Homo sapiens: one gene and its partners. The protein of the gene in region 1 purifies or fractionates together with the protein of each later gene. This does not show direct contact. Each region holds a gene or a part of one and is shown in the gene's direction. Other genes may lie near its edges. The genes, in order: BZW1, HNRNPA1L2, FNBP1, EIF5, GCN1, CMYA5 and SMC4.

Evidence for each region.
Region 2: the proteins of BZW1 (region 1) and HNRNPA1L2 fractionate together in Homo sapiens (co-fractionation; one large-scale study listed by BioGRID). This does not show direct contact.
Region 3: the proteins of BZW1 (region 1) and FNBP1 fractionate together in Homo sapiens (co-fractionation; one large-scale study listed by BioGRID). This does not show direct contact.
Region 4: the proteins of BZW1 (region 1) and EIF5 fractionate together in Homo sapiens (co-fractionation; one large-scale study listed by BioGRID). This does not show direct contact.
Region 5: the proteins of BZW1 (region 1) and GCN1 fractionate together in Homo sapiens (co-fractionation; one large-scale study listed by BioGRID). This does not show direct contact.
Region 6: the proteins of BZW1 (region 1) and CMYA5 purify together in Homo sapiens (affinity purification with mass spectrometry; one large-scale study listed by BioGRID and IntAct). This does not show direct contact.
Region 7: the proteins of BZW1 (region 1) and SMC4 fractionate together in Homo sapiens (co-fractionation; one large-scale study listed by BioGRID). This does not show direct contact.

Annotation. Positions count from the first base shown.
Region 1 is NC_000002.12:200,817,952-200,822,249, forward strand, and holds part of BZW1 (eIF5-mimic protein 2), read left to right. Parts: intron 1-22; coding exon 23-132; intron 133-271; coding exon 272-442; intron 443-803; coding exon 804-950; intron 951-2,030; coding exon 2,031-2,169; intron 2,170-3,231; coding exon 3,232-3,354; intron 3,355-4,195; coding exon 4,196-4,227; 3' UTR 4,228-4,298. UniProt on the Homo sapiens protein: Translation initiation regulator which represses repeat-associated non-AUG (RAN) initiated translation probably by acting as a competitive inhibitor of eukaryotic translation initiation factor 5 (EIF5) function.
Region 2 is NC_000013.11:52,640,667-52,644,755, forward strand, and holds HNRNPA1L2 (heterogeneous nuclear ribonucleoprotein A1-like 2), read left to right. Parts: upstream 1-1,764; 5' UTR 1,765-1,826; coding exon 1,827-2,789; 3' UTR 2,790-3,107; downstream 3,108-4,089. UniProt on the Homo sapiens protein: Involved in the packaging of pre-mRNA into hnRNP particles, transport of poly(A) mRNA from the nucleus to the cytoplasm and may modulate splice site selection.
Region 3 is NC_000009.12:129,896,589-129,900,886, reverse strand, and holds part of FNBP1 (formin-binding protein 1), read left to right. Parts: intron 1-339; coding exon 340-461; intron 462-782; coding exon of another isoform or gene 783-785; coding exon 786-922; intron 923-4,298. UniProt on the Homo sapiens protein: May act as a link between RND2 signaling and regulation of the actin cytoskeleton. Required to coordinate membrane tubulation with reorganization of the actin cytoskeleton during the late stage of clathrin-mediated endocytosis.
Region 4 is NC_000014.9:103,336,713-103,341,010, forward strand, and holds part of EIF5 (eukaryotic translation initiation factor 5), read left to right. Parts: coding exon 1-137; intron 138-403; coding exon 404-515; intron 516-1,136; exon of another isoform or gene 1,137-1,262; intron 1,263-1,614; coding exon 1,615-1,760; intron 1,761-2,022; coding exon 2,023-2,181; intron 2,182-2,459; coding exon 2,460-2,621; intron 2,622-2,926; coding exon 2,927-3,091; intron 3,092-3,714; coding exon 3,715-3,849; intron 3,850-4,250; coding exon 4,251-4,298.
Region 5 is NC_000012.12:120,191,358-120,196,261, reverse strand, and holds the start of GCN1 (stalled ribosome sensor GCN1), read left to right. Parts: upstream 1-1,546; 5' UTR 1,547-1,564; coding exon 1,565-1,582; intron 1,583-4,904. UniProt on the Homo sapiens protein: Ribosome collision sensor that plays a key role in the RNF14-RNF25 translation quality control pathway, a pathway that takes place when a ribosome has stalled during translation, and which promotes ubiquitination and degradation of translation factors on stalled ribosomes.
Region 6 is NC_000005.10:79,730,789-79,735,086, forward strand, and holds part of CMYA5 (cardiomyopathy-associated protein 5), read left to right. Parts: coding exon 1-4,298. UniProt on the Homo sapiens protein: May serve as an anchoring protein that mediates the subcellular compartmentation of protein kinase A (PKA) via binding to PRKAR2A. May function as a repressor of calcineurin-mediated transcriptional activity.
Region 7 is NC_000003.12:160,430,650-160,433,051, forward strand, and holds part of SMC4 (structural maintenance of chromosomes protein 4), read left to right. Parts: coding exon 1-94; intron 95-382; coding exon 383-556; intron 557-993; coding exon 994-1,176; intron 1,177-1,633; coding exon 1,634-1,866; intron 1,867-2,376; coding exon 2,377-2,402. UniProt on the Homo sapiens protein: Central component of the condensin complex, a complex required for conversion of interphase chromatin into mitotic-like condense chromosomes.

The DNA of each region.
Region 1 (4,298 bases):
ATTAAGCTATTTTCTTTTACAGGAGTTTCAGCAGCTTTTGCTGTGAAGCTCTTTAAATCATGGATAAATGAAAAAGATATCAATGCAGTAGCTGCAAGTCTTCGGAAAGTCAGCATGGATAACAGACTGATGGTTGGTAACTTTTTTTCATTCTTCCCATTCTTGCCAAGGATGTAAATGAGAGAAATTTCTCATTTTTAAGACTGTGAAAAGAAAGTGTTTTTCTTAATCTGATTTAAAGAAAGTTTAACCAGATAAATTCTTCTTTTAGGAACTCTTTCCTGCCAATAAGCAAAGTGTTGAACACTTCACAAAATATTTTACTGAGGCAGGCTTGAAAGAGCTTTCAGAATATGTTCGGAATCAGCAAACCATCGGAGCTCGTAAGGAGCTCCAGAAAGAACTTCAAGAACAGATGTCCCGTGGTGATCCATTTAAGGATGTAAGTTTTTGTTTAAACCGTCTTTTTATGGCTAAGCTTCTGGCATAGAGATTTTCACTAATTTGAGGAACTTACTTCACCAGGATGAGATTGAGTTAATAGTAACAGGATGTTATACTGGAACTTTGCCTCATTCTTTTGCATATGCTTCTTCAGTGCCTGACTGAGGCCCAGAAATACAAGAGACTGGAGCTCAGGGCACCTTTCAGTTGTAAAGGTCTCTTTTTATATGTGGTACACATGTGGTTGCCAGTTGCATGGAAAAGGAGTTGTTAGTTTTTGTTAAAGGTCTAAACTTGATGTGTGAAGTATGTACATAATCAAAACTGACTTCTGTTACTAAATTTGGATTCATTTGCAGATAATTTTATATGTCAAGGAGGAGATGAAAAAAAACAACATCCCAGAGCCAGTTGTCATCGGAATAGTCTGGTCAAGTGTAATGAGCACTGTGGAATGGAACAAAAAAGAGGAGCTTGTAGCAGAGCAAGCCATCAAGCACTTGAAGGTATTAGAACTATGCCTTGACAAAACAAACTATTCTGCTTTCACGTGGTGATAAGTGAACTGTGACTATATTTTTCTAAGAGGATTTATCACATCCTGTGGTTCCTAGGGATGGCCCACCAGTAAATAAACAAATAGTAACATTAGCTATTGATGATAATGCTCTGAATTGGGCTGTGGTTCACAGGTTAAAAACAAGAATATGGCCTGGCCAGGCACAATGGCTCACGCCTGTAAACCCAGCACTTTGGGAGGCAAGGGCAGGAGGATTGCTTGAGCTCAGTTTAAGACGTGCCTGGGCAACATAGTGAGACCTCATCTCTACTAAAAATCACAAAAAATAGCCAGTCGTGGTGGCGCATGCCTGTAGTCCCAACTACTCAGGAGGCTGAGGCAGAGGATCTCTTGAGCCCTGGAGATCAAGACTGCAGTGAGCTTATGATGGCTTTGTCAGACAAAGCCTGGGTGACAGGGTGAGATCCTGCCTCAAAAAAAAGAACATGATGAAAAGGAACTTCAGCTTGTAATTAGATGTTTGCTTTTGAAGGGGGTATTGGAAAATAGGAATTTTTCCCCCCCTCTAAAATACTAATATTGTTTGACATTTACTTGGACTACTTGGTATAGTATTGTTTATTTTACTTAGCTACTTAGATTTTCTGCTTTTTTTTTTTTCTCTTGAGACAGTCTCACTCTGTCACCCAGGCTGGAGTGCAGTGATGTGATCTCAGCTCACTGCAGCCTCCATCTCCTGGGTTCAAGCAGTTCTGCCTCCTCGGCCTCCCAAGTAGTGCCTGGCTAATTTTTGTATTTTTAGTAGAGACGAGCTTTTACCATATTGGCCAGGCTGGTCTCGAACTCCTGACCTCAAGTGATCCACCCGCCTCGGCCTCCCAAAGTGCTGGGATTACAGACGTGAGCCACTGTGCCCAGCCTATTTTTTAAATTTCTGGTAAATAAGTTATAGTTTGCAGTGATTATAAAAGATGAGTTAAGTTCTATATTGTCTGTATTGTAGGAGTTTTGTAATGGATGGTTATTTGTAATGAATGACTAAATCTTTTCTCTGTTCCTTTAAAAGCAATACAGCCCTCTACTTGCTGCCTTTACTACTCAAGGTCAGTCTGAGCTGACTCTGTTACTGAAGATTCAGGAGTATTGCTATGACAACATTCATTTCATGAAAGCCTTCCAGAAAATAGTGGTGCTTTTTTATAAAGGTAATTTAGATTTTGAATTTTGTAAATAACACTTAATAAAAACCCTTATAAACACAAAATTATCCAAATGATGAGTTATCTGGACATCAGCTCCCTGAAATATTTTACTTCTAGTTATGAGTCACCTCTGATTAAATTGGGTGCTTTTTAGTGCACTGATACTTGTTTAAAACATCTAAACCCTATTCACAAGTTGAAGTATGAAATCTAAAGCCATCATTATGCGTCCTCAAACTTGCCTCCTATACTCTTAACCAGGTATACATTCCCAAAGTTCAGCTAGGTGTGGTGGCTCATACTTGTGACCCCAACACTTTGGGAGCCTGAGGCTGGAGGATCGCTTGAGCCCAAGAGTTCAAGACCGGCCTGGACTGCATAAGGAGACCTCATCTCTACAAAAAAAATAAAAAATTAGGCAGGGAATGGTGGCGCAAGCCTGTAGTCCCAGCAACTCAGAAGGCTGAGGTAGGAGGATCACTTGAGCCTAGGAGGTCAAGGCTGCAGTGAACCATGATTGTGCCACTGCACTCCAGCAGCCTAGGCAACAAGTGAGACCCTGTTTCAAAAAAAAAAAATCCCCAAGTCCCTTTTCCAGACAGTCTGTAGTCTTAGCTATGTAGTCATAGCTCTGGAGTCTTCAGCCTGTGTGAATCCTGCTTCTGTTCATCTTACTCCCCCACCCAGTGTTGACTTTCCGTAGTCCTTCAAGACCAGTTCAGAGTGCTTCTATAGCAACCCCAATTTCAGTTATATTGTTCCCTTTTCTCCTGATCCCAATTTTAGAAACCTGGTCTAAAGTGGCTAGTAAAGACAAGACCTCTGTTGGGAGAAAATCCATTGCAGTTGGTCATAACACTTTGAAATTCTGCACTAATCAGACCAGTCTTGATCCCGTTGAGTGTAGTTGGTATGCGCACATGTATTATTATCTTCCATTTCTCATGGATGTTTTTAGCTTTTCAGCAGTTTGTTTGCTAAGCAGGCATTTGCACATTAGGTGGTGGTTCTAACGCTGAGTAGAGTATATTAAAACTCCCTTAATGCAATGAGTTTTCTTTCCAGCTGAAGTCCTGAGCGAGGAGCCCATTTTGAAGTGGTATAAAGATGCACATGTTGCAAAGGGGAAGAGTGTTTTCCTTGAGCAAATGAAAAAGTTTGTAGAATGGCTCAAAAATGCTGAAGAAGGTAAGGATTTTCCTTTGTGTGGTTTGTTTGGTAAAGCTAATTTTAATGTGGCCATAATATATCTTCACACATGCTTCCTTCTTTCTGATGCCATTTTGTACCTGGAGTAGAGATTTTTGTTATAAGGCAGGTGGCGAAAGCTAGAGTTTAATTATTATAGTATATTTATGGCTCAGCCATAATAGTAAATGTTCTTCATGAAATGGAAAATTTTGAGAATATTTAATGTTTATAAATTTGTGGATTTCTTTTCTTTTTTTTTTTAATTAAAAATATAGAGACAGAGTCTCACTATGTTGCCGATGCTGGTCTTGAACTCCTGGGCTCAAACAACCTTCCTGCCTCAGCCTCACAAAGTACAGGGATTGCAGATGTGATTGCACCCAGCCAAATGTTGGGATTTCCAAGTGAATGCTTTTGAATATCTGCCTCATGTAAATAGGTTATTAATAAAATTCGTTAACAGCTTCAAAGTTACATGGAGGCTGGGTGTGGTGGCTCACGCCTGTAATCCTAGCACTTTGGGAGGCTGAGGCGATCAGGTCATTTGAGGCCAGGAGTATGAGGCCAGCCTGGACAACATGGGAAACCCAGTCTCTACTAAAAATAAAAAATTAGCCAGTTTTGGTGGTGGGCGCCTGTAGTTCCAGCTACTTGGGAAACTGAAGTGGGAGGATCACTTGAACCCGGGAGGCAGAGGTTGCAGTGAGCCAAGAGGGTGCTGCTGCATTCCGGCCTGTGGGACAGAGGGAGACTCTGTCTTAAAGAAGCTTCAAAGTTATAAATGGGAACTTTTGCCTTCTGATACATAATGTTTGACTGTTTTTTTCCCCTTTTCTAGAATCTGAATCTGAAGCTGAAGAAGGTGACTGAATTTTGAAACTACACCCTCAGTAAAGCAAACAGGAGTTGTAGATAAAATGTCATGTCTCATGTGTCCTGGT
Region 2 (4,089 bases), on another chromosome or scaffold:
TCCAGAGACACACTGGGGTTAACCAGTGAAGTTGCTTACTGCTGCGGGTGACCAGCCAGTGGCTCTCACCGTCCATTTAGACTAAAGGGATCAGTATTTTGGGCACACCCATAACCATTCATAGTACCTTAGTTGGGGAGCTCTGCCTTATGTCCTGGTATTTCTTAAGATTCCTTTCTTGGCTCTCTTCCCACTGCACATGCTTCTTTGACAATCTCATTTACTTCCATGGCTCAGTCACATCTGATATCCACGTCCAATCAATCATGCAGCCCAGGTAATTTACCTCCTCAAAAGCTTTTAATTTGTCATTTGTCTTCATGTTTCTACCTTAGTTTAAGTTACCATCATTTCTTACAAGGAATATGCAAACTTCTGAACAGGGTTTACAAGGACCAGCATGATCTGTCCCGATATTACATCTTGACTCTCTGTAGCCCTAACATAATCTAGTCATCAACTCCTGAATAAGACATGGCTGTCAGTACTTGGCCTCTCCACACCAAATCATTGACTCAAGATTGTTTATTAAAGAAGGACCTGTGATGCTGTTGTCATTGTCCTTAACCTGTAAACTTGCTGCCTTCCTCACTTTCCATTTATTCTTTAACCCTCTGTAGTATTGCATTTGACTTATTACCCTGAATTTGTTGTTACAAAGGTCACTAAGAGTAACCAATTTCCATATTGCTGAATCCCATCCTTCCTTCTCTTCCTGGACCTCTTGATCAATTGATAACCTTTCATAACTCACTTTTCCTCTAAACTCTCTATTGCCTTCAGTTTTGCCCAATCTGAAGTGCCCAACTGTCCTATCCTGCTTCTGTAATATTTTCCCCCTTTTACCATGTAAAAAATAATTTCCTGATGTTCCCTTTGGGTTGCTCCAGAGACTTTTTCAAAGATTGGAGTTCTCCCAAGTTTTGTCTAAAGGTCACTGTTCTTATTCTCTGTTTTCAACTTGTCCGCTTCCAATCTGTTCTCCCCAGTGCAATAGGAGTGTCAGTCTAATTATGTCAAGCCTTCAGTGGTTTTTTAAATCTTTTCAGATGGAGTTGAGGCCCTATGTGGTCTCACCTCTTCTTTATCTCACCAGCCTTATGATCAAATTCTGCACTCCCAGACATAATAGCAATTAGAATAAGAATGTTTTCAATTGCAAGAAGCAAACAGAAAAACCCAACTCAAAATTATTAAATAATACAAAACAAAAAGTCAGGAGTTTGGAGGCTTCTGGGTTGGTTAACTCAGGAGCTCACTGGTATCACTGATGAACTAGGTTTCTCCATCCTTATGCTTTCACTTTCCTTGGGATATTGGTTTGGTCTTCCAGGATGGCTATTGCTAAAGGTAGCTGCAGTAATTTATTCTGTGTTTCTGTTTATCAATAAGGAGACCTTTCCCAGAATCCCTGAGCAGACACCTCATGCATGGCCCAATTGGCTAGATTAGTTATATACCCCTTCTTAAACCATATTGTTTGCCAATATGGCCAACAATGTGGGGTTGGTGATCCCAACAATGTGGGATGTGGGATTACCACAAATGACTTAGTCATGTGCTGGAGAAACAAAATTAGGGCTTCACAGCAAGGAAGAAGGGAGGAATGAAGTATCCTACTGTTATGTATACTTGTCTTTCTTCCTGTACATACACTAAAAAATGTTCAGGCCCATATGAAAAATGTATTTATTTCCCAAAGAGAATCAGCCAGAATCTCATCCAAATACTCTATCCAGCTTCATATCTAAGATCTCTGGTGGACTTTTTCTGCCCGTGGACGCCGCTGAAGAAGCATCGTTAAAGTCTCTCTTCACCTTGCCGTCATGTCTAAGTCAGCGTCTCCAAAAGAGCCCGAACAGCTGAGGAAGCTCTTCATTGGAGGGTTGAGCTTTGAAACAACTGATGAGAGCCTGAGGAGCCATTTTGAGCAATGGGGAACGCTCACAGACTGTGTGGTAATGAGAGATCCAAACACCAAGCGCTCCAGGGGCTTTGGGTTTGTCACATATGCCACTGTGGAGGAGGTGGATGCAGCTATGAATACAACGCCACACAAGGTGGATGGAAGAGTTGTGGAACCAAAGAGAGCTGTCTCCAGAGAAGATTCTCAAAGACCAGGTGCCCACTTAACTGTGAAAAAGATATTTGTTGGTGGCATTAAAGAAGACACTGAAGAACATCACCTAAGAGATTATTTTGAACAGTATGGAAAAATTGAAGTAATTGAAATCATGACTGACCGAGGCAGTGGCAAGAAAAGGGGCTTTGCCTTTGTAACCTTTGACGACCATGACTCCGTGGATAAGATTGTCATTCAGAAATACCATACTGTGAAGGGCCACAACTGTGAAGTTAGAAAAGCCCTGCCAAAGCAAGAGATGGCTAGTGCTTCATCCAGCCAAAGAGGTCGAAGGGGTTCTGGAAACTTTGGTGGTGGTCGTGGAGATGGTTTCGGTGGGAATGACAACTTTGGTCGTGGAGGAAACTTCAGTGGTCGTGGTGGCTTTGGTGGCAGCTGTGGTGGTGGTGGATATGGTGGCAGTGGGGATGGCTATAATGGATTTGGTAATGATGGAAGCAATTTTGGAGGTGGTGGAAGCTACAATGATTTTGGCAATTACAACAATCAGTCTTCAAATTTTGGACCCATGAAGGGAGGAAATTTTGGAGGCAGAAGCTCTGGCCCCTATGGCGGTGGAGGCCAATACTTTGCAAAACCACAAAACCAAGGTGGCTATGGCGTTTCCAGCAGCAGCAGTAGCTATGGCAGTGGCAGAAGATTTTAATTAGGAAACAAAGCTTAGCAGGAGAGGAGAGCCAGAGAAGTGACAGGGAAGCTACAGGTTACAACAGATTTGTGAACTCAGCCAAGCACAGTGGTGGCAGGGCCTAGCTGCTACAAAGAAGACATGTTTTAGACAAATACTCATGTGTATGGGCAAAAAACTCGAGGACTGTATTTGTGACTAATTGTATAACAGGTTATTTTAGTTTCTGTTCTGTGGAAAGTGTAAAGCATTCCAACAAAGTGTTTTAATGTAGATTTTTTTTTTTGCACCCATGCTGTTGATTGCTAAATGTAATAGTCTGATTGTGACGCTGAATAAATGTCTCTAAAAAAAAAAAAGATCTTTGGTGGAATCCGTAGGCTGCTTTTTCATCTGGTGGCTGTGGCTCTCTGGTGTTTTGTCCTCAACAGCCACATCTAATATGAGCACTGGGAAGAAGACTCTTTCTAAGGCTGCTCAGCTTTAGAGTACATTTCTTGATGGTGTGAGCTTGGTGTCCTGTCTCAGAGTCACTAGTTTCCCAGCCCGAAACAGTTGTGTCTCAATGCCCTCCATCCTGCCTTTTCCACCCGGCCAATTACACACCATTCTAGGTCTGTTTTGTAGCACTCCACTTCCAAATACCAAATTGTCTATCAGTTTGGATTCTTAGTCGTAAGCAACAGAGATGGATTCTGGTTTTCAGCATAAGATAAATTGTATTAGAAGAATATTGTGCTGCTTGCAGAATGGCCAAAAGGACTAGAGAATCAGCATCAGTCTGAGCCACACGGCTGGGAATAAATCCTGGAACCATACTGCATAACTGGTCGGGTGAGGAGATTGTAGCCACTGTTGCCAAGCACTGACACACTGCTTTGTAACACTATCTGCTGCTTTGGGAATTTGATCTTGACACATGTGCTACTGCATCTGGAGAGGATACACTAAGGTCCTTCCTTGATTTGTTGTTGCTAACCAGTTACCAATTTTAAAGTATGTGCAAGTTCAGCTTAAGTTGTTTGGCATTTTCAGCTTTTATAGAGGGAGACTGGCTCAGTGGGAAGACTCAAGGAATTCCCCAGACATAAGAAGGAGCTGAATTCTAAGTAACCCAAAAGAAAGACCTACTTAAGGACAAATCCAGGTTTTGTGGGGCCAAAATTTACACAATTTGTTGGGGTTGTGGGAGTGGGGAGGGGATTTATTTAGGAAAAATACGTACAAAATTATATTAACAAATTAGATAGGGTTTGAAGGGGCTTTTGCAAATAAACACCCCTGAAGCTGTACTTTCCAAATCACTCCGCTAGATCTG
Region 3 (4,298 bases), on another chromosome or scaffold:
ACTGCTGCTTAAAAGCCCAAGGGGATAGCATAGTCCAGTGTGCTTTCTGCCCCATCGTGGGCAACCACATAAATATGAGTTTGTTTCTATGTCTCCAACTTCGGGTGAAATGGAAGCAACCGTCCTTCAGTACATTTGAACAGTCGAAGGCAGAAAACGTGGCCATTCTGCCCCCACGTGGACTTCCTCACATTGGGTTAAATGGCCAAGAGTAGCCCCTGAGTTTGGGACCTTAGGATGCTCCGGGCTGGCCCTCAGATGGCCTTTGGGACCTTAGGACACTCTGGGCTGACCCTCAGATGGCCTTAGGTTGGAGTCTCTCATTGCTTTTGTCTCCAGGCCTGGCTGGCTGAGGTTGAAGGCCGGCTCCCAGCACGCAGCGAGCAGGCGCGCCGGCAGAGCGGACTGTACGACAGCCAGAACCCACCCACAGTCAACAACTGCGCCCAGGACCGTGAGAGGTACAGTATCTGCACAGCGCCTGCCTCTGGCAAGGGAGCCTGTTGGCTTTGTATTTATTTCTAAATTTTGGAATCTGGAATGACCATAAGGCACTTGTTCAATGCCAAAATGTCTGTTGCGATTGACCTGTCACTTTTTCCATGATGCAGATTTATAATTCCACATGGGATGGGTGATCTGAGCGTGCGATGATTTACCATGGCCTCAGTTACAGCACTCGCTGAGGGGCGGGGTTGCAAGTGCTCTCCAGTCGCAGGGACTCAATCTGAGTCCTCCCTGGGGTCAGTCGCTTTAGTTGCTTTGTGTTTTCCTTTCTTGAGCAGCCCAGATGGCAGTTACACAGAGGAGCAGAGTCAGGAGAGTGAGATGAAGGTGCTGGCCACGGATTTTGACGACGAGTTTGATGATGAGGAGCCCCTCCCTGCCATAGGGACGTGCAAAGCTCTCTACACATTTGAAGGTGACATTTCATGTCTGCTGGATTCCCCTGCCTTTTATAAACCATAATATCTGAGTTACTCTTCTTTCACTTTTCCTTCCTTCCTTCCTTCTGATCATTTTTATTCCTTTGTCCTTCCTTCCTTCCTTCCTACCTTCCCTTCCCCTTCCCCTTCCCCTTCCCCTTCCTTCCTTCCCTTCCCTTCCCTCCCTTCCCTTCCTTCCCTTCCTTCCCTTCCTTCCTTCCTTCCTTTTTTTCATACAGGGTCTCGCTCTCTTGCCCAAGTTAGAGTGCAGTGGTGCAATCATGGCTCACTGCAGCCTTGACCTCCTGGGCTCAAGTGATCCTCCAACCTCAGCCTCCTGAGTAGCTGGGACTACAGGCAAGCACCACCATGTCCGGCTCATTTTTGTACTTTTGTACTTTTTGTACTTTTCAGTAGAGACAGGGTCTCACTATGTTGCCCAGGCTGGTGTTGAACTCCTGGATTCAAGCAGTACTCCTGCCTCAGCCTCCCAAAGTGCTGTGATCACAGGTGTGAGCCACTGTGCCTAGCCACACTCTTCTCTTTCTGTGACCAGAACTTTCTTTAGAAGCCTTCCAGATCTGGCCGGGCATGGTGGCTCACACCTGTAATCCTAGAACTTTGGGAGGCTGAGGCGGGCAGGTCACTTGAGGCCAGGAGTTCAAGACCAGCCTCGCCAACATGGTGAAATCCCATCTCTACTAAAAATACAAAAACTGGCTGGGCATGCTGGCAGGCGCCTGTAATCCCAGCTGCTCGGGAGGCTGAGGCACGAGAATCACTTGAACCCGGGAGGCGGAGGTTGCAGTGAGCTGAGATAGCGCCACTGTACTCCAGCCTGGGTGACAGAACGAGACTCTGTCTCAAAAAAAAAAAAAAAGCTGCAGCAGCAGCCTTCCAGATCCTTCTCTACTATGCTTTTATCCTACTCATGGTATGATTATTATTTGGTTGTATATTTTGACTTTTGGTTCGTATAACTTAACAGCTTCCAGAGAGCTTGCTTCACTGCAGCAGACGATAGGGAGGATGATCATTTCATCCATTCATTTAATATCTAGTATCTATAGCGCTCCTGTCTTGTAAAGGCCCATGAAGTGGGGGGATGCAGGTCGTATGATATGGCACCTGCCCAGAGGGAAATCAGGCAGACACACTTAAGGAGCAAGCAGCGGCTGGGTGCAGTGGCTCACGCCTGTAATCCCAGCACTTTGGGAGGCCGAGGCAGGCGGATCGTGAGGTCAGGAGATCGAGACCATCCTGGCCAACATGGTGAAACCCCATCTCTACTAAAAATACAAAAATCAGCTAAGCGTGGTAGCGCATGCCTGTAATTCCAGCTACTTGGGAGGCTGAAGCAGGAGACTCACTTAAACCAGGAGTCGGAGGTGGCAGTGAGCCGAGGTCGTGCCACTTTACTCCAGCCTGGCAACAGAGCAAGACTCCCTCTCAAAAAAAAAAAGCAGGCAGTTTGCAGTGTTTGCCAGAAGAGGGATACAGAGGAACGGGGAGGACAGGGGAGAATGAGGTCGCTTCCTTAAGGAAGTTTGGAGAACTTGCCATGGCATGGGGGGTGTGGCCAGAAATGGGTGTGGTGTGGCTGGAGCTTAGATGTCTTAAGTCCTAATAGTGAAATGTGGCACTAAAGAGTGGGAAGTGCCAATGGGGGCGAGGTAGGGAAACATCTGGGTTTTATGTGGCAAACATTGAGGAGCTATGGGAGGTCCCCTAGCAGGGTGTCGATGCAGTCAGAGCTGTACCTTAGGAAAGTCATCGTCAGATGTGTAGGATCCACTGGAAGACATGGAGGATGGTTAGAAAGACTAGCCCAGGCCGGGCATGGTGGCTCACGCCTGTAATCCTAGAACTTTGGGAGGCTGAGGCAGGCAGATCACCTGAGGTCAGGAGTTCTAGACCAGCCTGCCCAACATGATGAAACCCCGTCTCTACTAAAAATACAAAAATCAGTGAGGCGTGGTGGCGGGCGCCTGTAATCCCAGCTACTCGGGAGGCTGAAGCATGAGAATTGCTTGAACCCAGGAGGCAGAGGTTGCAGTGAGCCAAGATCGTGCCATTGTACTCCAGTATGGGCAACAGAGGGCAACTCTGTCTCAAAAAAAAGAAAGAAAAGATAAACTAGCTTAGTGTTTCTAAACCAATGAACCTTGAAACGATGTCCTGCAGAGCGTTAATAAGGAGGCCATGAAAGAAGCTCTCAGGCCAGGCTCAGTGGCTCACACCTGTAATCCCAGCACTTTGGGAGGCTGAGGCCAAGAGTTCAGGGCTACAGTGAGCTATGATCGTACCACTGCACTCCAGCCTAGGCGATAGTGTGAAACCCTCTCTAAAAAATAAATAAATAAATAAATAAAATTACGAAAAAGTTGCATTTTAATATAATGAATAAATTTTTAAAACTAGCAATCAGAGCTCAAGTAAGTTTGGGAAGCCCTGGGATAAATAAATTTTACAGATTTCTTTACTACAGGACTTTTCAGAGCCTTTAATAGACTAAATGTTCATTGTGACAAAATAAGAAAGACGTACCAGTTTAAACGTTCCCAGTTTTACTTCATATTCCAACCATCCCCCACCGTACCCTGTTGCCCTGTTAACAGCTCCCTAAACTCTTTGCCTTGCAGAAAACTGGGGGGTGGTGGGCAGCCTTTGAAATGATCCTAGCAGAAGGTCTTGGGGGCCTTGTTCAAGGAATGGATACAGAGATGCCGCCATTGACAAACTGCATATATTCGGGGCTGATCAAAAGCCAGGAACAAAAAGGAGAGGAAATCCAAGACGGCTCCCAGAGTTGCATTCCTGGGAGGACAGAGAGGTCTAGGGAAGTGGAAAAGCAGGAGGATATAGTTAGGAGGAAGAACAGTGAATCCAGGTTCATCTATGTTGTTTCAGGTGTTGGGGCCATGTCTAGGTGGCAGTGTGCTGCAGACAGTGGGAAAAGTGGAATCTTGGCTGCAGAAAGTACCAGAATGGAAGCAATATGTGAGGACAGTGTTTAAAGAGGAGCAGTTGGGCCGGGCGTGGTGGCTCACGCCTGTAATCCCAGCGCTTTGGGAGGCCGAGGCGGGTGGATCACCTGAGGTCAGGAGTTCAAGACCAGCCTGACCAACATGGTGAAACCTCGTCTCTACTAAAAATACAAAATTAGCCGGGCGTGGTGGCACATGCCTGTAATCTCAGCTACTCGGGAGGCCGAGGCAGGAGAATCACTTGAACCCGGGACAAGTGGCATCACACTCCAGCCTGGGCAACAGAGCAAGACTCTGTCTCAAAACAAACAAACAACAACAACAAAAAAATTGGGAGGCTGAGGCTGGTGGATCACCTAAGGTCAGGAGTCAGACCAGCCTGACC
Region 4 (4,298 bases), on another chromosome or scaffold:
AGACCCAGTTTGATGTTAAGAATGACCGTTACATTGTCAATGGATCTCATGAGGCGAATAAGCTGCAAGACATGTTGGATGGATTCATTAAAAAATTTGTTCTCTGTCCTGAATGTGAGAATCCTGAAACAGATTTGGTAAGTGCTTTTGTGGTTGTCGAAAGAAAAAGCCATATACCTGCTTCTGTGATACCGCTAAGTCACCTTCCTGAGAAGGCAGAGCAAATGTAATTTTAAATCAAACACAAAACTCCAGTTTTCGAGATATTTCCATTCTTTTTTTTAAAGTAGGTCACTGTGTGAAAAAAGTTTTCTTTGCATGTGAAGCTGTCTGTGGTTTAGATGTCCTCTGATTAGATATTTTCATGTTATATTATGGATAACATTTGTTATTTTTTTGGCAGCATGTCAATCCAAAGAAGCAAACAATAGGTAATTCTTGTAAAGCCTGTGGCTATCGAGGCATGCTTGACACACATCATAAACTCTGCACATTCATTCTCAAAAACCCACCTGGTGAGTCTTCCATGATGAACTCCTAAGATCCTAAGATAAGTTACTAACTGTTGGGAACAAAATAGAAGGTTTTTTTGTAATAGGAATGTAAGGGAGACTGGGCACGGTGGCTCATGCTTGTATTCCCCGCATTTTGGGAGGCCAGGGCGGGCACATCACTTGAGGCCAGGAGTTCAAGACCAGCCTGGCCAACATAGTGAAACCCGTCTACTAAAAACACAAAAACTAGCTTAGCATGGTGGTGTGCTCCTGTAATCCCAGCTACTCCGGTAGCTGAGGCATGAGCGTCGCTTGAACCTTGGAGGCAGAGGTTGCACTGAGCTGAGATCGTGCCACTGCACTCCAGCTTGGGCAACAGCGACTCTGTCTCAAAAAAACAATATAAGGAACCTTTTAGTCCTTGTACTATATTTTATCAAATCTAAGACATCTTTCAAAAGTGTATTGTTAATTACCATTAAAGGTGAAAAATAGGCTGCCAATTAAACTGTGCCATATCAATTAAGACATTATCTGAGGGTAGATGAAGTAATGACTAAAATTCTGCTGGAAACCCAGCAAAGTTTCTTTTACTGGCATTGTTTGGTAAAGAGGGCCCCCTTCATTAAACTTGAATATTGCAAGCAACACTCTGTGGCAGATGATCAAAACTGTCTGACACAATTTGAGCTTGCTATAGCAAGAAAGTCTAACCTATTCCGGTGTTCTCTCTCCCATGAGACAAGCCGTTATATAGACTTAAACAGTGTTCCACCTGTTGGCTAAAGCTGGGTTGAGTTAATGACTTTGTTCATGAGGGATGACAGGGATCCTTAGGGCCACCTCTCCCTAGTGGAGGCATCATCACTTCATCTTACTCTTTCTTAGCAGTTACAATACCCCTAATATTTTGTGTCACTCCATTCTTAGACTAACATTCTTACGTATGAAATACATGATGAATTTGATCTGTGAAGCCTCTTAGGTAGCATTGTGTGTGCTGTGTGGTTTTTCTGAGGGGATCCATAGGAAAATAAGGGCAGGGTTTTAAACGTTAATGATGGGCAATGAGGTAATGTAAGTTATGGGGTTAAATTTTTATTTCCCTTTTTTTCTGTAGAGAATAGTGACAGTGGTACAGGAAAGAAAGAAAAAGAAAAGAAAAACAGAAAGGGCAAAGACAAGGAAAATGGCTCCGTATCCAGCAGTGAGACACCACCACCACCACCACCACCAAATGAAATTAATCCTCCTCCACATACAATGGTGAGTGCAGGGTTGATGGCCTAGTGGGCACTAAAGTTGTGTAAAGTATATGGCATTTGGTTGAGGTGGGTGGAAATGTTGAAACTAGCCTTCAGTGTGTAATACACTAATATTGTGGATTCCAAGTACTGTTTGTTGTTTGAATTAAGGTGAACCCAATTTTGGATGGAGATGGACTTGATGCCATTAACTTGGCAAAATCTGAACCTTTTTGTTGTTGTTTTTAAGGCCTTTGATCAAGTAGCTCTGTTTTCATAAACAGGAAGAAGAGGAGGATGATGACTGGGGAGAAGATACAACTGAGGAAGCTCAAAGGCGTCGAATGGATGAAATCAGTGACCATGCAAAAGTTCTGACACTCAGTGATGATTTGGAAAGAACAATTGAGGAGAGGGTCAATATCCTCTTTGATTTTGTTAAGGTAAAACATTTGCTTGGTCTGTAAATCAGCTTCAACCCAGCCTTGTTTGTGCCTTTAGATATATGATACTTTAGCAGTGTAATTAGGATTACTCTAATGCACGACTTTTTAGAACTCTTGTTCATTTAAATATTTTTTGCGCGTGATTCCAGGCACTATGTGTCACAACTGCCAAATTAGGCAGGAAAAATATGTTCATCAGAGCAGGGACTGGCTGGTGTCTTGAGCCTGGCAAAGTGTGCCTCCATTGCACTGAATTGTTTTCCTTTTCTTTGCAGAAAAAGAAAGAAGAGGGTGTTATTGATTCATCTGACAAAGAAATCGTTGCTGAAGCAGAAAGACTGGATGTAAAAGCCATGGGCCCTCTTGTTCTAACTGAAGTTCTTTTTAATGAGAAGATTAGAGAACAGATTAAGAAATACAGGCGCCATTTCCTACGAGTAAGCAAAGTGCTCTGGATTCATAAATGAGATTACAGTTGTGTGGCTTTCGAGATGGTCATATTAACCACTTTTGCTTGTCCTGTCATGCTTGAAAGTGGGGAAATTGACCCACCTTACAAGCCTCTGAGTATCTGAAAGTGCCATACCTAGGCCCTTACAAAGTAACAGGGATGTTTATGCATTGACCTTTTTGAACAACTATGGTATGGGCCATGCACTTGCAGACACTCTTATTTGGGTAATAGAGTTGTCAACTTAGAACACATAAAAAAGATTGTTAACACCAAGGTGTCTATTTGCAGTTTTGTCACAACAACAAAAAAGCCCAACGGTACCTTCTTCATGGTTTGGAGTGTGTGGTAGCAATGCATCAAGCTCAGCTTATCTCCAAGATTCCACATATCTTGAAGGAGATGTACGATGCAGACCTTTTAGAAGAAGAGGTCATCATCAGCTGGTCGGAAAAGGTGGGGAATACATAGGTGGGCTCTTAAAGTTCACAGGTTTTGGGGGGTTTTTTTGTTTGGTTGATTGTTTTTGGAGACGGAGTCTCATTCTGTTGTCCAGGCAGGAGTACAGTGGTATGATCTCAGCTCCCTGAAACCTCCACGTCCCGGCTTCAAGTGATTCTCCTGCCTCAGCCTCCCAAGTAGCTGGGATTACAGGCACCTGCGATCATGCCCAGCTAATTTTTGTATTTTTAGTAGATGGGGTTTTACCATGTTGGCCAGGTTGGTCTCGAACACCTGACCTCAGGTGATCCACTGGCCTCCCAAAGTGCTGAGGTTACAGGTGTGAGCTCCTGCGCCCAGCCGTTCACAAGTATTGAGACGGCTTTGAGATGAAGAAAAAATGTCTTAATATCTATAGCTAAAGTTCAGTGCCTGTGCTGTAGATTGTGATTCGCATCATGTCAGATTTGTAGTCATAACAGACTGCTGAGACTAACGTGTTCACTGAGTACATTGATTCTGTTTGAGGATTCAGACTTGTTAGGACCCAGTCCCCTCAGCTCAGTAAGGGGGATTGTATAAATAATCAAAAGTTGTTAAAATTCCTCAACTAAGAGACTTGTACTCACATTTTTTAGGCCTCTAAGAAATATGTCTCCAAAGAACTTGCCAAAGAGATTCGTGTCAAAGCAGAACCATTTATAAAATGGTTGAAGGAGGCAGAGGAAGAATCTTCTGGTGGCGAAGAAGAAGATGAAGATGAGAACATTGAGGTAAACATTGGGGGAGGAGGGTATTGGATACAGTGCTGGCATGGGTGTTTGAGATTTAAAAAGGTTTGTGAGGAGTGATATAATGGCAGTTTGGGGTAATTTCAGGTTTAGAATTTAAGATGCAGTAAAATACAGCCTCTCAATAATTTGGAAAATAATAGAAAGGGTGATGGAAACTGTGTTCCTACTCCTACACATTATAGTCTATAAAAAAACTTTAAAAATGCTCTTAGACTGGAGCCTGTGTAAGAGAACTTGCAGTGTTTGCATAACAGAGCTGTTCCGTGAAGAAGAAATAGCTGCATCTAGGCAGTTTCCTCCTCTGTGACCACAATTTACATTGATTTGTTTTATAAACAGATTTATCAGCTTATGTTGAATAAAATCATTCCTCTTAACAGGTGGTGTATTCGAAGGCTGCCAGTGTACCGAAAGTTGAGACTGTAAAG
Region 5 (4,904 bases), on another chromosome or scaffold:
TAGACACAGTTGTAACTATTACACTAGAATTACTGTTTCTATGGCTGCTGCATACTTGGAGTAGGTTTAGTGTCAGCTGAGATAGGCACCTGGTGGATGCTGGGGCCAGTCCCCTAGAGTAAAGTTTTTCAAACTGGGTGGTGCTCCAACTCGGTGGTAACCAATTTATATTTTCGAGATAGTCTCAAATATATTTGAGACTGGGGTGCAGTGGCTTGGACTTGGCTCACTGCAACCTCCGCCTCCTGGGTTCAAGTGATTCTCCTGCCTCAGCCTCCCAAGTAGCTGCAATTACCGGAGGCTGCCACCACACCGGGCTAATTTTTTTGTTGTTGAGACAGTCTCGTCCTGTCACCCAGACTGGAGTGCAATGGTATGGTCTCAGCTCACTGCAACCTCTGCCTCTCGGGTTCAAGCGGTTCTCCCACCTCAGCCTCCCCAGTAGCTGGGACTACAGGCATGTGCCACCACTCGGCTAATTTTTGTACTTTTAGTAGAGACGGGGTTTCACTATGTTGGCCAGGCTGGTCTGGAACTCCTGACCTTGTGATCTGCCCGCCCTGTCCTCCCGAAGCGCTGGAATTATACAAGGGTGAGCCACCGCACCCGGCCTTTTTTTTTTTTTTTTTTTTTTTTGGTATTTTTAGTAGAGACAAGGTTTTGTCATGTTGACCAGGCTGGTCTGGAAATCCTAACATCAGGTTGATCTACCCACCTCAGCCTCCCAAAGTGCTGGGATTACAGGCGTGAGCCACCATGCCTGGCCCCAGTATTTAAAGAGAAAGCAGCATCTGCTGAGAATAGGTGTTTTTGTTGTGATTCCTGTATTTCACTTAGAGATCTGTCTGCTGGAACATGATATATTCATTCTAACTAGGTCTGTGTCAAAGGTTTGAAAGCCACTGCTAACAGGGCTGACAACTAAGCTGTGGAGACCCTGTTCCCTAAATTGCAGCCACGTCTGCACGTAGCCTCTTGCCCTGTGGCCTTCAAAACTCCCAGCCTGGGGCGTCCAGCATTTCCCCAGGGCAGGGGCCTCGTTCAGTTCTGAACCTTCCCTGACCTCCGTATCCAGCCACGTTTGCTAACCCTGTACAAGTCATCCGCCAACTGAACTACAAACTGAGGACAAAAGACTAGTTCACCGACTCTTTTACCTAGTTTTTAGTTCCTGCTATCTAGGAAGCAACACTTGTTTTTCTAAAGAACTTAGTCATCACTCAGGAAAGGCCCACGTAGGGCTGGCCCTGCGGGCTGGAAGTGGGTCAGGGGCTGCAAGGCGGGCCCATAGCGTTACACCGCGGGCTCACCACGTTACAAGCGCTAGTCTCCCACGAGGCGCCCGGGGCTGAAGAGCGGGCCCTGGGGAGGAGGCCTTGTGGCTCGGGCGCGGGCCAACTTTAAGCCCGTGATCCGGCTGCCCGGGCTGCAGCGGCCGCCGTCCTGCCCGGGGGCACCAAGCCCGGGGCCCTGCCCCCGCTGGCTCCCGGCCTCGCCCTGCCGCGTGGGCCACGCTGTGACCCGGAAGCGTTCCGGAAGCGGTTCCGGAGTCAGCCCCGGCAGGATGGCGGCGGACACGCAGGTGAGGCGGGCGGCTGCGGGGCCAACGCGGCCAGGGACTGGGTGCGGACGGTGGCCGTCGGGCGGGGCCCCTCTCGCTCCTCGGCTTAGGGGCGTTGGAGGTGGTGGCTGTGGAGGTCGTAGTCTCGGGGCCGTCTCAGGCTGGACTCTCAGGGCTGCGGGCTTGGCCCGGCCCGGGCGGCGCAGGCAGACCGCGGGCTCGAGGAGTCCGGGGCTCCCGCCTCGACTTCAGCAGCTGGAGCTCGGCGGGGCCTTTGCCCGACCCCAGAGTTGCAGAAGTTCACTTTACCGAGCCTCTACTTCTTTTCTCCAAAGCCCTCCGGCTGTGAGCCCCGGGCCAACGCCAAGTCTTCCTTAAACTTTGTATTCAGCAAATATTCTTTGAGCACCTACTATGAGCAGGGACTTTGAGTGTAGTCTTTGGATTCATACAGATCTGGGCTTGAGTTCCTGCTCGTCGATTTCTGTGACATGCCAAACAAGTGACTTAACCCCGCCAAGTCTGCCTTTTCATCTATAAAATGAAGTTAAAACAATACTTATCTTAAAAGGTTGTTGTGAAGGTTCAGTGAGATAAAATACGGCTTGATATATGTTGGTTGTTATCAGATCCAGGGTTAGTGAAAAGAACTGTCCTGTCCAGGAAGAGTGTTACCTATGGGTACCTTGTAGTTCAGGAAGGACCTGGGAAAACCTTTTCCTCCACCCAGTTGTTATGTTTTAAGGTGAAAAGACATTGTCATGAGGCAGGGGAAGAACAGGTGTCTAAGGACAGCTGGGCTGATTTGGTGTCTCCAGGGTGATGGGATTGATTTTTATGTGTAGGCCCAGAAAATGACCACTTAAGCATTCAAAAAGACATTTACTGAGACTCCTATGCAGGTGGCTGATGTTCAAGTTATGTTGTACTGAATACTAGAAAGAAAAGCTTAGTATGAGAGGGTTAGGGGAATACATGCTGAATGTTTAACATTGATACTCACTTGAGGGAAAAATCTCTAGAGCTGCAATGTCCAGTATGGCAGCCACATGGCTTAAGTTTGTTAAAATTAAATTAAATAAAAAAATTCATTGTTTGGCTGGGCGTGGTGGCTCACCCTGTAATCCCAGCACTTTGGGAGGCCAAGGCGGGTGGATCAGTTGAGGTCAGGAGTTTGAGACTAGTCTGACCAACGTGGCAAAACCCCGTCTCTACTAAAAATGCAAAAAATTAACCGGGTATGGTGGCATGTCTGTAATTCCAGCTACTCAGGAGGCTGAGGCATGAGAATCGCTTGAACCTGGGAGGCAGAGGTTGCAGTGAGCTGAGATCGCACCACTGCGCTCCAGCCTGAGCAACAAGAGTGGGACTCTGTCTCAAAAAAAAAAAAAATTTAGTTCTTCACTTGTACCAGCCACATTTCAGTGCACAGTTAGCCACATGTAGCCAGTGGCTACCGTATTGGGTGGTGCAGGAGAATATTTCTGTATTTTATAATTTTTGTATTTTTAGTAGAGATGGGGTTTCTCCATGTTGGCCAGGCTGGTCTCGAATTCCTGACCTCAGGTGATCCTTCTGCCTTGGCCTCCCAAAGTGCTGGGATTACAGGCGTGAGCCACCGCACCTGGCCTGAAATTATTTTTTATTATTTTATTTTATTTTTTGAGACGGAGTTTCTCTCTTGTTGCCCAGGCTGGAGTGCAATGGCACGATCTGAACTCACTGCAACCTCTGCCTCCCAGGTTCAAGCAATTCTCCTGCCTCAGCTTCCCGAGTAGCTGGGATTACAGGCATGCGCCACCATGCCCGGCTAGTTTTTGTAGAGACAGGGTTTCACCATGTTGGGTAGGCTGGTCTCGAACTTCTGACCTCAAGCAATCTGTCCGCCTCTGTCTCCCAAAGTGCTGGGATTACAGGCGTGAACCACCATGCCCGGCCTTGTCTTCAGTATTCTTTTTTTTTTTTTTTCGAGACGGAGTCTCGCTCTGTCGCCCAGGCTAGAGTGCAGTGGCACAATCTTGGCTCACTACAACCTCTGCCTCCCGGGTTCAAGCGATTCTTCTGCCTCAGCCTCCCAAGTAGCTGGGATTACAGGCACCCGGCACCACGCCCAGCTAATTTTTTTTTTTGTATTTTTAGTAGAGACGCGGTTTCACCATGTTGGCCAGGATGGTCTCGATCTCCTGACCTTGTGATCTGCCTGCCTTGGCCTCCCAAAGTGCTGGGATTACAGGCGTGAGCCACTGCACCCAGCCTTGTCTTCAGTATTCTAAAGGAAAATGATTTCAACCTAGAATTCTGTATTTGGCCAGAACATTTTCATACTTGCAAGGAGTTTACAAAATGGAGGCTGTGCTTCACCCAAACACAAGAAAGTACATGTTCAGGGTGATAAACTGTGCCCCAGCTGTAGAGGATCACATGCCTAATTGGGGCAGGTCAGAAAACTCTGGGAGAGATTTCCTTAGGAAGGTGGAATTTGATGGAATACCTGATCTCCCTAAATGTACTGAGATTTAGACAAATGGCAAAAAGTTTGGGTTTTAATTATTTATAAGAACAGATAAAACAAGTCAAACTGAAGTGAGGTGGGAAAGGGTAATTATTAACACCAGGGGCATAAAAAAGCTGGGAAGAATCAGAGTTTATTAAATGGATGTTGAATGCCATTTACATATAATGTAATCACTGACTACTGACCTAGCCTGTATGTGAAACTGGGGACTTCCACTGGGGAAATGGGGAGGGTGTGCGATGGGGTCACAGCAGGAAAGGGAGCTGTGGTGGAAAGGTAGCAAAACTGAAAAATCAAGAAGCACATGCAAGTTACCTCCATATTTAGAGATACTTAGATATATGGAGGTAACTACCCAAATATCCACCAGATCAACCTAAGGGTTGCCCATGGAGAGTGAGGGCAAGGGACTGGTTTTTATGGCAGACTTCTCAGAACTCTTTGGTTTTGACTCTGTGTGCATCTATGACTATAAAAACAAAAGACATTTTAAAGTTAAAACTACATTATTTATGTAGAAGACAGTTTTGGACATCAGTTTCTTTTATTCATTGCCAATAGAATTATGGCAGGGATTTAAGCACGAAAAACTCAGCATTATTTTATTTCTGTGTGTACGCTTGACTCTTACGCTACTGATAAGGCCTGCCTTTGAAATACCCTCAAAAGAAAAACATGATAACCCCACTGTGTTAAGTTACATGAGCCTTATCATGCCCTGCTCTACGGCTTATGAATCCACAACCTGTCCACTTGGTAGCTTGTAGAATATTGCTCAAGAGCAGATTTTCAGGGATGTTTGCAAACTGCCCCCCATCACTGGGTCTT
Region 6 (4,298 bases), on another chromosome or scaffold:
AATACATGGTCCTATCAGGAGACGAGGCCTCAGAAAGTGGGTGTTACACACCAGACTCCACATCTGCTTCTGAATATTCAGTTCCATCACTGGCAACAAAAGAGTCACTGAAGAAAACAATTGACCGTAAGTCCCCGTTAATATTGAAAGGTGTTTCTGAGTACATGATTCCATCAGAAGAGAAGGAAGACACTGGATCGTTTACTCCAGCTGTGGCCCCTGCTTCTGAGCCCTCTCTCTCACCATCCACAACCGAAAAGACTTCTGAATGCCAGTCACCACTGCCTTCTACTGCCACATCAGAACACGTGGTCCCATCAGAAGGAGAGGACCTAGGAAGTGAACGTTTCACACCGGATTCAAAGTTGATCTCCAAATATGCAGCCCCACTCAATGCAACACAGGAATCTCAAAAGAAAATAATCAATGAGGCATCCCAATTCAAACCAAAAGGTATTTCTGAGCACACAGTTCTGTCAGTAGACGGCAAGGAGGTCATTGGACCATCTTCCCCAGATTTGGTTGTTGCATCTGAACACTCTTTCCCACCACACACAACCGAGATGACTTCTGAATGCCAGGCCCCACCACTTTCAGCCACCCCATCTGAATATGTTGTTCTATCAGACGAAGAGGCAGTCGAGTTGGAACGATACACACCCTCTTCTACATCTGCTTCTGAATTTTCAGTACCACCATATGCAACACCGGAGGCACAGGAGGAAGAAATTGTCCATAGATCTCTAAATCTAAAAGGTGCATCCTCACCCATGAATTTATCAGAAGAAGATCAAGAAGACATTGGACCTTTTTCTCCAGATTCTGCATTTGTGTCAGAATTCTCATTTCCACCGTATGCAACCCAGGAAGCAGAGAAAAGAGAATTTGAGTGCGATTCTCCAATATGTTTAACATCACCATCTGAGCACACTATTTTGTCAGATGAAGACACTGAAGAAGCGGAACTGTTCTCTCCAGACTCAGCATCACAAGTTTCAATCCCTCCCTTTAGAATCTCAGAAACAGAGAAAAATGAACTTGAGCCTGATTCACTATTAACTGCAGTGTCTGCTTCAGGTTATTCCTGCTTTTCAGAAGCAGATGAGGAAGACATTGGATCCACAGCTGCTACACCTGTATCTGAGCAGTTCAGTTCATCACAGAAGCAAAAAGCTGAAACTTTCCCTTTGATGTCTCCGCTTGAAGACTTAAGTCTGCCGCCTTCAACAGATAAATCAGAGAAAGCAGAAATTAAGCCAGAGATTCCAACAACCTCAACATCTGTATCTGAATATCTCATTTTGGCACAGAAGCAGAAAACTCAAGCATATTTAGAGCCTGAGTCTGAAGACTTGATTCCTTCACATTTAACCAGTGAAGTGGAGAAGGGAGAAAGGGAGGCAAGTTCATCAGTAGCTGCAATACCTGCTGCTTTACCTGCACAATCATCTATAGTAAAGGAAGAAACCAAACCTGCATCTCCACATTCAGTTTTACCTGATTCAGTCCCTGCAATCAAGAAAGAACAGGAACCCACAGCAGCACTCACTCTAAAAGCTGCAGATGAACAGATGGCTTTGTCAAAAGTCAGAAAGGAAGAAATTGTGCCTGATTCTCAAGAAGCTACAGCACATGTATCACAGGATCAAAAAATGGAGCCTCAGCCTCCAAATGTTCCAGAGTCTGAGATGAAATATTCAGTTTTGCCTGACATGGTAGATGAGCCAAAGAAGGGTGTCAAGCCCAAATTAGTTCTAAATGTGACTTCTGAACTAGAACAGAGAAAGTTGTCCAAGAATGAGCCTGAAGTAATAAAACCATATTCACCTCTAAAGGAAACATCTTTATCTGGACCTGAGGCTTTATCAGCAGTGAAAATGGAGATGAAACATGATTCCAAAATAACAACTACACCTATAGTGCTTCATTCAGCTTCCTCAGGAGTGGAAAAGCAAGTTGAACATGGTCCACCTGCACTAGCATTTTCAGCTTTGTCAGAAGAAATTAAAAAAGAAATTGAACCCAGTTCCTCAACAACTACAGCATCTGTAACTAAGCTTGATTCAAACTTAACCAGAGCAGTAAAAGAAGAAATCCCAACAGATTCATCTCTTATCACTCCTGTAGATCGTCCAGTCTTAACAAAAGTAGGAAAGGGTGAATTAGGAAGTGGTTTGCCACCACTGGTAACATCTGCAGATGAACATTCAGTTCTTGCAGAAGAAGACAAGGTGGCAATTAAAGGTGCTTCTCCCATTGAAACTTCATCCAAACATTTAGCTTGGTCAGAAGCAGAGAAGGAAATTAAATTTGATTCACTTCCAAGTGTCTCCTCTATAGCAGAGCATTCTGTTTTGTCAGAAGTAGAAGCCAAAGAAGTTAAAGCTGGGTTGCCAGTAATCAAAACATCATCTTCTCAGCATTCAGATAAATCTGAGGAAGCAAGGGTAGAAGACAAACAAGATCTTTTATTTTCTACAGTCTGTGACTCTGAACGTTTGGTTTCATCACAGAAGAAGAGCTTGATGTCTACCTCAGAGGTGTTAGAGCCTGAACATGAGCTTCCACTCAGCCTATGGGGTGAGATAAAGAAGAAAGAAACTGAACTTCCTTCATCACAAAATGTGTCACCTGCATCCAAACATATAATCCCAAAAGGCAAAGATGAGGAAACAGCAAGTTCATCTCCTGAGTTGGAAAATTTAGCATCAGGTTTAGCCCCAACATTACTGCTCCTCAGTGATGATAAGAACAAACCGGCAGTGGAGGTATCTTCTACAGCTCAGGGAGACTTCCCATCAGAAAAACAAGATGTTGCTTTGGCAGAGCTGTCTTTGGAACCTGAGAAGAAAGACAAGCCACACCAACCGTTGGAATTACCAAATGCTGGGTCAGAATTTTCTAGTGATTTAGGTAGACAAAGTGGATCCATAGGTACAAAACAAGCAAAGTCTCCCATAACTGAAACAGAGGATTCTGTTTTAGAAAAAGGCCCAGCTGAGCTTAGGAGCAGAGAAGGAAAAGAAGAAAATAGAGAGCTTTGTGCATCTTCTACGATGCCTGCAATTTCAGAGCTTTCATCATTGCTTAGGGAGGAATCTCAGAATGAAGAAATTAAACCTTTCTCTCCCAAGATCATCAGCCTAGAGTCGAAAGAACCACCTGCCTCTGTAGCTGAAGGAGGCAACCCAGAAGAATTTCAGCCATTTACTTTTTCTTTAAAAGGATTATCAGAGGAGGTTAGCCATCCAGCCGACTTTAAAAAGGGAGGAAATCAAGAAATAGGCCCATTACCACCAACTGGAAATTTGAAGGCACAAGTCATGGGAGATATTTTAGATAAGCTAAGTGAAGAAACAGGCCACCCAAATTCATCCCAGGTACTCCAGAGTATAACAGAACCATCAAAGATTGCTCCTTCTGACCTCCTTGTAGAACAAAAAAAGACAGAAAAAGCACTTCATTCAGATCAAACTGTTAAATTACCTGATGTAAGCACCTCTTCTGAAGATAAACAAGATCTGGGTATTAAGCAGTTTTCACTTATGAGAGAGAATTTGCCTTTGGAACAATCAAAATCATTTATGACAACCAAGCCTGCGGATGTCAAAGAAACAAAAATGGAAGAATTCTTTATTTCTCCAAAGGATGAAAACTGGATGTTGGGAAAGCCAGAAAATGTGGCTAGTCAACACGAACAGAGAATAGCAGGATCTGTGCAGCTGGATTCCTCTAGCAGCAATGAGCTGAGGCCAGGGCAGCTCAAGGCTGCTGTGTCCAGTAAGGACCATACATGTGAAGTGAGAAAGCAGGTCCTGCCGCATTCTGCTGAAGAATCTCATTTGTCATCACAAGAAGCAGTATCTGCTCTTGATACTTCCAGTGGTAATACAGAGACCTTATCAAGTAAAAGTTACTCTTCTGAAGAAGTAAAGCTGGCTGAAGAACCAAAGTCTTTAGTCCTAGCTGGAAATGTAGAGAGAAACATAGCAGAGGGGAAGGAGATTCATTCTTTGATGGAGAGTGAAAGTTTGCTATTGGAGAAAGCAAACACAGAGCTTTCCTGGCCTTCCAAAGAAGATAGCCAGGAAAAAATTAAACTACCTCCTGAAAGATTCTTCCAGAAACCAGTGTCTGGCCTATCAGTGGAACAGGTGAAGTCAGAAACAATCTCCTCTTCTGTCAAAACAGCCCATTTCCCGGCAGAAGGTGTGGAACCTGCATTGGGCAATGAAAAAGAAGCACACAGGAGCACACCTCCTTTTCCTGAAGAGAAGCCATTGGAAGAATCAAAAATG
Region 7 (2,402 bases), on another chromosome or scaffold:
AGATACTGAGAAAGAGGTGGATGACCTAACAGCAGAGCTGAAAAGTCTTGAGGACAAAGCAGCAGAGGTCGTAAAGAATACAAATGCTGCAGAGGTATGAGTTGCTTTGTATTGAAGAGGAGATGGGATGATACTGGAACCAATTTAAAGAGCTGGATATATGACAGTGCCTAGAATGTAGTAAGCACTCATAGACTTAAAGTTTTATAACTATCAATTTTTATTTGTACAATAAGAATACTATAATTTGTGAATTTAAATGCTTAAATTATTTTAAAATGGAAGGGGCATGAGGAGAGATTGGTAATTCCTTCATCTCTGTAATGTGAAAATGATGGCTCTATTTGGAAAATTCTATCTAGCAGTTCTTTTCGGTGTTTAGGAATCCTTACCAGAGATCCAGAAAGAACATCGCAATCTGCTTCAAGAATTAAAAGTTATTCAAGAAAATGAACATGCTCTTCAAAAAGATGCACTTAGTATTAAGTTGAAACTTGAACAAATAGATGGTCACATTGCTGAACATAATTCTAAAATAAAATATTGGCACAAAGAGGTGAGATTGTTACCGTTTAGTTTAATTTTAAACATATTCTTTATGAAAAAGGAGGGTTTGGGGAGGATTGTTTTAGGGGGTTGGGGTTCTTAAATTTTGTTTGTGAGCTACATTGTGATTTTTAATTCTGTGATCACTTCTAAGGTTTATAGGGGACATAACAATATAAATTGTTATATACAGAAAAGTCTGAGTAACGATTAGAATTAGACAACTACCCTTTCACCCTAGGGCTGATCTGGACATTTAAGAAAAGATTACATGGACACTTTTGAGTGTTACAACTATTTTTCTTGAAGTCCTTTGAAAAATAATTGATAAATCAGTCACAACTCCTGTTGTTTTCATAGCTGTGTAATTTGTCATATTTTTTTTTAAACAATGAATTGTATGTAATATTATGCCTTCTCTAACTCTCCCCTAAATTGAACTTTTAGATTTCAAAAATATCACTGCATCCTATAGAAGATAATCCTATTGAAGAGATTTCGGTTCTAAGCCCAGAGGATCTTGAAGCGATCAAGAATCCAGATTCTATAACAAATCAAATTGCACTTTTGGAAGCCCGGTGTCATGAAATGAAACCAAACCTCGGTGCCATCGCAGAGTATAAAAAGAAGGTATGAATGAACTGTGTATGTATACTAGTTGGAGTTCTTTTTAGTCCTTAGCCTAAATTCTGATCTTTAGTTTTGTATAATTAACAATGCTGTTGGCCGGGCGTGGTGGCTCACGCCTGTAATCCCAGCACTTTGGGAGGCCAAAGGCGGGTGGATCACAAGGTCAGGAGTTCGAGACCAGCTGGGCCAACATAGTGAAACCTCATCTCTATTAAAGATACAAAAAATTAGCCAGGCGTTGTGGCACGTGCCTGTAATCCCGGGTACTCGGGAGGCTGAGGCAGGAGAATCGCTTGAACCTGGGAGGTGGAGGTTGCCGTGAGCCGAGATCGCGCCATTGCACTCCAGCCTGGGCGTCAGGGCAAGACTACGTCTCAAAACAAAGTAATAATTAACAATGCTAATTATCATATCAAATTTATCTGAATAGATTTTCCCTATCATAATCTTTTCACAGGAAGAATTGTATTTGCAACGGGTAGCAGAATTGGACAAAATTACTTATGAAAGAGACAGTTTTAGACAGGCATATGAAGATCTTCGGAAACAAAGGCTTAATGAATTTATGGCAGGTTTTTATATAATAACAAATAAATTAAAGGAAAATTACCAAATGCTTACTTTGGGAGGGGACGCCGAACTCGAGCTTGTAGACAGCTTGGATCCTTTCTCTGAAGGAATCATGTTCAGGTGTGTAATTATGCTGAGTTTATAATCCCACTGTTACCTTTTTCTACATATTCTCCAAACTCAGTATTTCTTGGAGGTAGGATGTGAAGGCAAGATGTACAACTTGTTTCATTTACTAGTAAATACTAATTTGCTTGCATGCTATTTATGCTTGCAGTTTACAGGGGCAGACAGCCAGTATTTACAAAATATTTGTCTAGTTCATCTTTTCTTAAATTTTCAAGGCATTTTTAACATGAGGATTGAGAAATTGTATTTGATAAGGAGAAAGAATAGCAAGAAGTATAATACTTAGCTTGCTCTTTAAATCTTAAAACTTTGGTATGTGCTCCTATGTATGCATCCTCCAATAACGTTTTTATAAAATAACAGAAAAGAGAATTCATATTTGTGAAAAGCAAGTTACAGATTCCTAAAAAAGATAGTAGAACTCAATTATGGAAAGCAAATCACAAAGTCTTAACTTTAGCTTTACAGGTAATTTGACTATGATTTTCTTAATCATTTCAGTGTTCGACCACCTAAGAAAAGTTGGA